Homo sapiens: one gene and its partners. The protein of the gene in region 1 interacts with the protein of each later gene in a pairwise test. Each region holds a gene or a part of one and is shown in the gene's direction. Other genes may lie near its edges. The genes, in order: TMEM132D, PNISR and FMO2.

Region 1 (3,657 bases):
CAAAGGGCAGATTTTAATACCAGGTTAATATGCTTGAGCCTTACACGTTTATATTTCATAAGCAGAAAATGATTAGTTATAGAACAAACCCACCCTCTTGTAGATATTTTTTAAAAACAAATAAACATAAAGTTTTGTTGCTTGTATTTCTATGCCCCTGGGACCTAGGAAGTATGGTATGACACACGGAGTTTCCCCAGCAGCCTTGTCCTATGGCCCCTAATTTTTCTGGGGAATGGCCTTAAATGTTTAAGGTCTAGCTTTGCTGGCAGCTTGATGTAGTTTGCAATGGTGCTAGCCTGCAGATGAGCTTTAATGCATTACTGTGAACTTTATGGGAGGGGGCAGGTGTATGGAGGGTGGGCTGAGAGGAAAAATGGGTGAGGAGATTGGAGTTGGGCAGAGGGCAAGGTGATTTTTAAATACAAAGTCAAGAGGGTTGCCACATTTAGGTTGCTTGTTACAGTCCTCACGTGCATCCTTCCCAGTTATGTTCCCTTGCACATGCTGGTAGGAAAGAAGCAGACGCTGAGAGACCTGCAACATTGCGAGCGGGGCTGCGGCAGTGTCGTGCTCCCTGTGCCTAGGGTGGCGCTGGGCACGTGCTCTGCCTGCTTCCAGCTGAGTGCAGCCAATGGCCTGGGCAGTGGGCTTCTTGGAGCGCCTTCCTGAAACTGCTTCCATATGTAGAGCTTCTGGCCTCTAATAATATGCTGAAACGGATGTTTAATACTTGGTAATATTCTTTTTCAATCAGCCCCAGACAGTTTAGGCACTTTGCATTGTCTGTGTGTGGTGTGTCTGTGTGTTTACTTCCAATTAAAATCCTGTTAAATATAGTTCATATTCGATTTCCAGCTGGGTGAGAACTTTCAAGGGATCAGAGAATCTTAGAGGAGAGGTGATATGAATACATTGCGACATGAACTGAACTGTCCCTGAGCTTATAAATAATATCTGCATCATGAAATTCCATTTGACACAATTTGATGACACTGGGGTGTTAATTGGGTCAGAGTGAAGCTTCTGGGTAGGACAGCACCACCCTTATTGAAGGAAGCTGTGGACCAAAAAGAGCTTCAAAGTACAGTGATAACTTCTTTAGGGGTCAGGAACTTTTTGGGAGAGGAAAGAATATCAGAAGGGAGCCAGTTAGTGGGGGAGAGAGAGAGTGTGGCTTTTTGCTTACATTCAAATTCTGTCAAATTGAAAAGACAAAGAATGAAGAGACCACTAAGTTTTGTTTTGTATGAATTAAAGAGTTAAATCAAAATGTGATTTTATTAAAAATATTTATGTGCATAGAAAGGTAGAATTCCAAGTTTGAGGATCTGTTTAACTTAGTTATATTCTAAGAGCCAAGAAAAAATGAGTAAACAACAAAAATTTCAAAAATATTTTATTATAGAAGCTATGCTACACAATATTTAGAATTTATCTATCAATTTTTCTGTTAATCCAGGTGTTATCCGTCTTTCCACCCATGTATTCACCCATCATCCCATCCACCCATCCATCCACCCGTTCATTCATCCGTCCATCCATCCATCATCTACCCATCCATCCACCAGTCCATCCACCAGTCCATCTACCCATCCACCCATCCATCCATCCATCCATCCATCCATCCATGCATCCATCCATTATCCACCCATCCATCTACCAGTCCATCCATCCATCCATCCCTCCATCCATCATCCATCCATCCATCCATCCATCCATCCATCCATCCATGCATGCATCCATCCATCCATCCATGCATCCATCCATCCATCCATCCATCCGTGCATCCATCCATCCATCCATCCTTCCATCTGTCTGTCTGCCCATCCATCCATTCATTCATCATTCCATCCTTCTATCCACCCATCCTTCCATCTATCCATCTATCATTTCATCCATCCATTCATCATTCCATCCATCTGCATATTCATTCAACAAATGTCAAAGGCCACATGCCTTCAGTGAACACAGAGCTCAGCAGGAACTATTTCTAAGTGTTGTGAGGACACAGGACAGGTACTAAAGCGTCCTTAGGTAGGGATGTTTAGTGCCAGTCATTCCTCTAGATGTCAAAGTGCCTCATACCATTACTCCGTTGCTTTAAGTTGTAAGCTCAGACCTGGGCAGTTTCGTATTCATCATTCCCCTCTTCCTTTGTTCCCTCTCCTTTCCTATTTCATAACAGTAACTGCCTTCTGAGCACCAACAATGCACCCCATACCGTGCTGGGCACAGGGAGTACCGTAGTGAGGAAAAGCACAGGTTGATATGGTTACTATTCCCAGAGAACTTGCCATTTGTAGGAGAGATAGGGGAACATGTGAATTACACAGAAAAACATAAAGTTAGCACTGTGGGTGTGCTCTGGAGGATGGGGCGAGTGTCTCTGGATGCAGATAATTTGGCAGTTGACTTAGAGTAACTGGGAAGACTCGCCTTGTCTGAAGGATGGGCTGGCGTTACCGGATGGACTGGGAGGATCCCAAGTGATCCACATAATCTCCCATCTTGACTTAGTCACGTCGCCTTTTAACATTTCCAAATAAAGTAACCAACATTCCCATATTTCAGGGATTTGGATGTGAATATCTTTTGGGGGAGTGCACTTCTGCCTTTCACAAGGTTGACATTCTACAACTATTTTCTGCCTCCTCTCCTAAATTTTAAGTTCTTCTAGGGGACAAAAAAATGGGTATTTTTTCTATCTCTGATTTCTCTCCAGTATTTTTAGCTTTGTGCTTTGGACATTGCAGGGGCTCAATACAATTTTTAACTGTGCTTCCAAGAGTGTGAAATATTGCTGGAAATCATTTACCTGACAGTGCAGTGGTTTGATGCTGCCTTTTCCAGTAATTCAGAGCGCCGCAGGAAATACTTTGGTCAATAATACCAGCTAATGTTTTGAGTAATTGTTGTATGGCAGGCACTGTGCGGAGTGACTTATGAGGATAATTTTTGTGAATTTGCAGATAAACTCAATGGGGTAGATATGTACTGGACCAGAAGTTGAAGTTCAGAGATGTTAAGTAACTTCTCCAAGTCATAGCAACATAAAAGACAGGCAGAGTCTGAATTCTGATGCCAGAACCCATACCCCTGGCCATTCTGCTGACTTCTGATAATTATATGGAATAACTAAAAACCAGGCGGTTTGTCAGGCAGAATTGTTACATGGTGCCAGGCTTGCCAGGGGCTGAGTGCAGAGAGGTCTTGAGACCATTTTAGTTTTTAGCTCAGAGCCTGGTATACAGATGACCCTTGATATTTGTTGAGCAAATGAATAAATGAACATCATGTTATTTAGTTTTCTCAGCATTATTTTTTCCAGCAGCAATCAGAAATAACACCTGAAAGGGATTAAAATGGGGATTTACTTCCAAGACCACCAGGGAGGTAGAAGAGATTCTCTGATGGTGTGGAATGGTTTGGTTATCTCCTAGGTCAGCTTCTTTTTTGTTTTTTTTATTTTTATTTTCCTCCTCCCCCACCTCCCTAGGTCAAGCTTCTTAAAGAACTTGCAGACATGCCCAGTGGACTGTCTTCAGGACCTGTTTATTCATCTATGTCCCTAACATGTGTAGGGTCCTGGGCAGGGAAGACTAAGACATGGCCTCTGGTCTTCCAGGACCAAAAGTGTAGGTGACACATCAGTGG
Region 2 (3,657 bases), on another chromosome or scaffold:
GTGCCCAGCCAGTAAATTGTCTTTTAAAAAGACTAACCATTTGGTGTTCCACCTGTGCCCTCATCCAGTAGTCATCCTCTGTAACTAAATCAAGTTTCTCAACTCCAGACTTAATTAAAGCGCTTTAATAAATAGCCTCTAACTTCCTTAACTTACCATCACCTTCTTTACTGTATTTTTATTCTGCTCTGTTTTTCCCAATTTCACATCTTTTTTCTATTTTTCTCAGCCTAAGTGTCCCAAACATTATATTACTTGAATAGTAGCTTCCATCAAAACTTTGGGGAAGAAAAGCTTCTAAAAATATAGCAAAAGTAGAAGTGGCTGTTCTAAACATACAGAAAAATGATCATAGGTGATACAAATCAAACCCTTGAAAATATGCAAATTAAAACCTCTGTTCATAGGAAAACTTTTTTTTTTTTTTTTAATAAAAGCTTCAGCTGGGTGCGGTGGTTCACACCTATAATCCCAGCACTTTGGGAGGCTGAGGTGGGTAGATCATTTGGGTCAGAAATTCGAGACCAGCTTGACCTGCATAGTGAAACCCCGTCTCTACTGAAATACAAAAATTAGCCAGGCTTGGTGGCGAGCAGCTGTAATCCCAGCTACTCAGGAGGCTGAGGCAGGAGAATCGCTTGAACCCAGGAGGCAGAGGTTGCAGTGAGCCCAGACTGCACCACTGCACTCCAGCCTGGGCGACAGAGCGAGACTGCCTCTCAAAAAAAATATAATAATAATAATAACAATAAAAGTTTCAACCCATGAAACAGGAAGACAAATTTAGACTAAAGAATTCTTTCAAAGATAAAGTGAAACCTCTGTAAGTTTTAGATTGCTTCTGGAAAAGAAAATGGAGTTGAGCAGAAGTGGGTTGGCTTGATCACTTTTTTTTTTTTTTTTTTTTTGAGATGGTGTTTCGCTCTTGTCGCCCAGGCTAGAGTGCAATGGCACAATCTCGGCTCACTGCAACCTCCGCCTCCCAGATTCAAGCAATTCTCCTGTCTCAGCCTCCCAAGTAGCTGGGATTACAGGAGCCCGCCGCCACGCCCGGCTAATTTTTGTATTTTTTAGTAGAGACGGGGGTTTCACCATGTTGGTCAGGCTGGTCCTGAATGCCTGACCTCAGGTAATCCACCTGCCTTGGCCTCCCAAAGTGCTGGGATTACACACGTGAGCTACCGCGCTCGGCCGATCACCTTTTTTTTAAAACCCCCTAATAGTTGTTAACTTGAAGAGTGCTACCAAAAGTGATGGTGGGAAAGCTCTAGTATTGATATTAATCACCACGAATTGAAACTTCTGATGCTTAGTTTTTATGTGTTTCTTATTTAATCCTCACAATAATCCTTTGGGGTATAGACATTTAGGTCTTCTGTTTTACAGATTGGAAAACCAAGGGTTAGAGCATAATTTACTTATGTTCACACCACTAACGAACGGATGTAGGTAGGCATCCTGAACCAGAGCCTGTGCTCTGAAGTCTAGGTGACAAGTGGTGACCAGAAAACTTAAAAGGGGAACTAAAAAAGTTGTCCATGACAACCATTAAACATGAGTAAGAAAAATAACCTTTATTTAGAGTAATTTCTGGAAAAGTAAATTTATGGATTGGGAATGATGGTAGGTAGTCATTATACATCATTTTCATCATTTAAATGGTTTTAGTAAGTGCACATTTTCAGTTTCAGTAGGCACTTTATAGAGCTGTTGATAATGTCTGTATTATATGAGTTTACAACTTAAGACAGAAAAATTATGCATTGAACTCTGATAAGCTGTTAAAGCGTTGGAAAGCACAGCAAGCTTTTTGGTTCTCATAAGTAGAAGTTAACAGCTTCCTCATCATTAGCCTTTAAACAGAAAGTAATAGCTAGACACTGATTATTTATTTAGTGTCTGCTATGTGCAAGATGCTTTCTTGTACCTTATTGAAGATAAAAGGATGAATAAATTTGTCTTTCTTTCAACTGTAAAAAGCTGTTGATTGAATAAAAAGGAAACTAAACCATTTCAGGAACAAACTGTTCTCTCCTTGCTAATGTTAATTTCTAAACATAGAATTCTATAGGAAAATTTAAATTAATACATTTTATTACCTTGTATCATCTAAGTTAATAATAGGTGGATGAGATCTTCATTTCAAATGTTTGTTGTTCCTTTTTTCTCAATCTCTAAATTGTTTGACATTGTTTTTTATTATGAAGGAATTGTTCAAGTAAATAAAAGATTTGGAAAGAAAAAAAGATGTTAAAAAGCTTTGCCTCTTCATTTCTGGTGTATCTCTTTTCCTTGATTTTATTATGATAAAATAATTCCCCATTATAAAGTTAATGCAAGGAAAAGTGACTAACTTGGAGATGATCACACTTATGTTGCATCTCTAGAATTTATTTTTATGTGAATCATGATAATCTATAAGCAGACATCTACTTTTTTTCCCCCTAGGGCATACATAATCTTGCTGCTATGCTTCGAAGCTGTAGTCTGAATCAACCTAAGTTTTAAACAGAAGGTGAACCTCTGAGGTCAGTTTAAATAGCAGTTGGTGTGTCTTCTTGGTGTTTCCTATTTATTTGTTAACTCTTAATTAAAGTTGTAAGCGAAGTTACTTTTCAAGGGCTCTGATAACCTATTTAGCCTTAAAGGAGTCTAAAGGCGTACTTGGGAAACTGGACAGGACAAAAAGGGGAGGAAGAAGGAAACACTGAACAGAGGTTAGAAAAAAATATATTTAACTTGGAACTGATACCCAAACCAGTTGTTGGCCTCATTTGTGCTATGTAGTGCCTATTTTGCCATATTCTAATAATGTCATTGTAATTGATTACATTAGTGTAACTTGAAGACAGGTACATTTGACTCATAAGTAAATCAAGGTGACAAAGAAATACACCTCCCATAACTCACAGTGTTCTTCATTTGAGGGATTAGTATCTGCCGCAGATAGAACTATACCTGTATGGCATTCTGGGAATGCTGCGAAGACTGGAGTTGGAAACCTTTAAAAGCCTGAATTGTAATCGCCAATTGTCCTATTAGAGTTAATATCTCTATTTTTTTTGTTATCCAACTTGCCTACTTTTTGTGATCCTGCAATACAAAGGCTTGCTTTTATCTTGTTTTTAGCATACAGGAAAGGATCAATCTAGAAGGATTCATTTAGTAAACATTTATTAAATGCCTGCTATGAACTAAGCCTTGGGATACAAAAATAAAGAAGAAACCATGCCCTGGTTATGTGAGTCACTGGTTCTTGAACAGGGTTGTGTATCAGTGTTGGAATAAAGTACAAAGATATTAGACTTGTAAGACTTTTAAACCTTTTATTAGGAATGTTTTCAGACTAGCTTACAGAAAAGTTGGGCTAGTGTGATGATTCCCCCCCATACCATCTCCTAAATTAATAGTTATTAACATAAAGTACCTTCCCTCCCATCTTTTCCATGCTATTTATATGTTAAGAAACCAGGTCTTGGAGGCTGTCTTACTTTCTGGATTTAATACCGTTTATCTCATTTCTTTATCCTTTAAAATTGCTTTATATTGGAAGTAAAATCCAAAAGCTCAGTTGGACTCAGTTAAACATTTTTGATGAGAATTCTTAGTGATTCTGGGAGCATAGTAGACACCTAATAATCTGTAGGGGTGATATTT
Region 3 (3,657 bases), on another chromosome or scaffold:
AAAGAGATGAGAGTTAGTTTGAACAGTCTGCCAACAATATGATTTGATGAATTCTAGGAAGGTATTTTCTGCAGTAAAATATTTCTCCAACTATCCTTTTGCCAGTATCTAAAATTTCAGATTAGAGATAACTTCCTATTCACTAGAAAAACTGGATTAAAACCTGATTAATTAGGCTTTATTGAATATTAAGGGTTAAGTATATAACTGTGGAACTTGTAACAGTATCACATTTCAAATTTCTCTTAAAACTATATCCAATAGAGGAATGTAAACTATTGTCTCCACTCAACGAAGTCAAAGAGTCCAAAGAGTCTCCCTGCAGAGTGAAACATAAAATAAGCAAAATTTCATAGGCTGCCTGCACTACGGCTATGTGAGGGTTTTGGTTACCAGGTGACTGGGAGTTTCCAAGAAGGATGCTGGGAGCCCCATGCTCTTCCCTGGGAAACTTTGCCTTTTCACTACTCTACCATCCAGAAGCAATTTTTTAAATGGGTTATTTATTAATTTTTGTATTTACACAACTCCTACTGGGATTACTTAACATATTTGGTGGTGACAAGTTAACAATAAATAAGTAAATTTAAGAATCCTTGTCCTATACCCAACCCAGACAATAGAGTTCTTCCAGACTCTCCAGCACCCCCTAGTGGCACATATGGACCATGGGACGGGTAGGTAATTAGCATATATTTTTCGTTCTGTTTCCAGCAACGGGAAGCACTTGGCAAGCATCACCTTCTTTTCTTCGCAATACTGCTAGGAAGTATGTATTATGATTATCTTTATTTACATATTAAGAAGAAACAGTTTTCAGATAAAGAATTTGCTCAGGGGAACATAGGTGGCGGGAGAAAAAAAACGAGGGTTTACAATTTCGGAGCTGTCACACTTAATAACCTTGCTGAAGTATTGATAGAGGAAAACATGATCTTCTTTCAGCCGCTAACCTTCTCTGTTTCCTTTATTGTTCCTAATACCTTGTATTCACGTGGGAGTTACCATGTACATTTTTTTTCCTGTGGGTTTTCTTTTAATATTTGGATTTGGATCTCCTCCTTTTCCAGATGTATATGTTTAGTTATTTTAATTTTCATGTAATACTCTCTAGACATATCTCAATCTTGGTTTTCTTCCTCTAAGTTCAATCTGAAATATCACTTTCTCTCTTAAATTTGGCTCCCCCAAGATCCAACATTCCAAACATATTGCCAATGAGTGTATACCTTTTAGCTTGAAAGCAGCAGAAAAAAAGTGGTAAATACCTGAGCCAGGGAACTTAATTAGGGGGTTCTATCAGTGATCAAGGCCAGTGATCAAGGGAGACACCAGCCTAATGAAAGATGACAGAAGATAGCAATACTCTAATAGAGATGTGGTTCACAAAGTTCATTGTGCAGAAGCAGCTAGGGAGAGCTTCTAAAATACAGAAATCTGAGCCCGTCTTTTTTCTTTTCTTTTTTTTTTTTTTTTTGAGATGGAGTCTCGCTCTGTTGCCCAGGCTGGAGGGCAGTAGCGCAATCTCAGCTCACTGCAACCTCCATCCCCCGGGTTCAAGCGATTTAGCTGGGATTACAGCCTTGTGCCACCACACATCTGGACCCATCTTCTAATGCAACTGGTCCACTGACTGGCATTTGGGAATTGCAATTTTGCCTCTAATTGTAGGACAAGGAAGTAAGAAGAGTTTTAATCATATTCAATTCAAGTAATGGAGCAGATAGATGTAAGGTCCATCCGAAAGAGTGAAATGATAGAATCACAGAATATTCTTAAAGAAAGGCAATTTTATTCTTTCTAACTGCTTATGGTAACTACCCATGAAAGCAAAAATATTGATTGGTAAGGGTCAATATAATGATGTTTCACGAAGAAAAAGTTTAATTTGTAAGTTTTTGTAATTCACATTTATAATAAATAAATCTGTTTCTGCTTTATAAATTTCCTCACTTGAGTAGATTAAATATTACCCTTATAATCTTCTTTAAACTTACTGTTTACAACCTTTTTATTGTCATGAAGTCAAACATAAACTTCAATTCAGCTCGTGATCAAAAGATCATAAATTCTAAATAAGTGCTATCTGAATTAACTTGGTTTGCTAGAGTTTTCTGACATTCTGAAAATTCTATATTAGAAGAATTCTTTATTATATGATAATTTATGTTAAACAAATTATAGCAAATTCTACACATAAGGAAATTCAGACTATATTTATGCTTAATTATCCAGGCAGTAGTAGTACTTAAGTAAATATGTGAGTTAAATTTATCTGTTTTGAAAACTGTGCCTCTGTCCTCCTCTTGATTGACAATAAACCCTCTGTCTCCACTTTCACATCTCCAAAGTTCAAGTGCATTTTAATACAATATAACAATAAGCACCATAAAGATATAAACTATGTTTGTACTGTTAGCATCTTATCCCTAAATCCAAGCTCAGGCCCTGGTCAGTTCAAGCATTTGATACATACTTGTCTATTAAATCAACATTAATCATCTCTTCATAACTAGGAAAACTAGGCCAATTTTACCCAGATTTGTCTAAATACACAGATGCCTACTTCAGCAAACTAAATGTAGAAGGAAGCACATATGAAGACAAGGGGGTCTTTTTTAGCTGCTATTTACCAATTAACCCAACAATAAAAGTTTATCACTTGGCTGGGCGCGGTGGCTCACGCCTGTAATCCCAGCACTTTGGGAGGCTGAGGCAGGTGGATCACCTGAGGTCGGGAGTTCGAGACCAGCCTGACCAAAATGGAGAAACCCCACCTCTACTAAAAATACAAAATTAGCTGGGCATGGTGGCGCATACCTGTAATCCCAGCTACTCAGGAGGCTGAGGCAGGAGAATCACTTGAACCCAAGACGGGGAGGTTGCAGTGAGCCGAGATCATGACATTGCACTCCAGCCTGGGCAACAAGAGCAAAATTCTGTCTCAAAAAAAAAAAAGGGATTATCACTTGATCTTCAGAAAAATAGTGAGGTCATTATTGTTTGCTGACAGACTACACAAGTAAAATCTCCCAAAGGCCAGTTTTGCCCTGGCCCTAAGATTACTGTAGGGCCTCAGACATCAAATCAGTTCTTCTCATCACTCAAAATTCCCTTAAAATTGACCTGATAGAGAAGCCAACCACATTTTTAAGCCAAATTGTTGGGTCTTTTAAAAACTAGCATTTTGGCTGTAGTATAACAGTCTTAGTTTAACTGATTCAAAACTATGGCTGGCTTAGTAAATTTAACGCTAGTGGCCAATAATAACAGAAAAGAGATAAATATTCTTAAGTATGTATTTTGAGCCAGGGATTCTGCTAAGTACTTTATTCACTCTCATTAAAGCCTTGAAACAATTGTTGCATGTTTAAGTTATTAATGAGCCCCATTTTACAGAGGAAAATGAGGAAACTGACCTATGTAACTTGCTCATGGTCACAAGCCATTAAAGGTGGCAGAATTAGGATATCAATCCAGTCGGTGTGACTCCAGAACCCTCCTATTTACTCTATACTACTCATAAAATTATTTGGTCTTGGGGCTGGGCGCAGTGGCTCATACCTGTAATCCCAGCACTTTAGGGTGTTGAGGTGGGTGGATTGCTTGAGCTCAGGAGTTTTAGACCTGCCTGGGCAACATGGTAAGACCTCATCT

The links.
Region 2: the proteins of TMEM132D (region 1) and PNISR interact in a two-hybrid assay, tested with the Homo sapiens proteins (one large-scale study listed by BioGRID).
Region 3: the proteins of TMEM132D (region 1) and FMO2 interact in a two-hybrid assay, tested with the Homo sapiens proteins (one large-scale study listed by BioGRID).

What each region holds. Positions count from the first base shown.
Region 1 is NC_000012.12:129,897,382-129,901,038, reverse strand, and holds part of TMEM132D (transmembrane protein 132D precursor), read left to right. Parts: intron 1-3,657. UniProt on the Homo sapiens protein: Regulate neuronals morphology via inhibition of the WAVE regulatory complex (WCR), a complex that controls F-actin cytoskeletal dynamics.
Region 2 is NC_000006.12:99,415,220-99,418,876, reverse strand, and holds part of PNISR (arginine/serine-rich protein PNISR), read left to right. Parts: intron 1-2,448; 5' UTR 2,449-2,528; intron 2,529-3,129; exon of another isoform or gene 3,130-3,241; intron 3,242-3,657.
Region 3 is NC_000001.11:171,188,200-171,191,856, forward strand, and holds part of FMO2 (flavin-containing monooxygenase 2), read left to right. Parts: intron 1-3,657. UniProt on the Homo sapiens protein: Catalyzes the oxidative metabolism of numerous xenobiotics, including mainly therapeutic drugs and insecticides that contain a soft nucleophile, most commonly nitrogen and sulfur and participates to their bioactivation.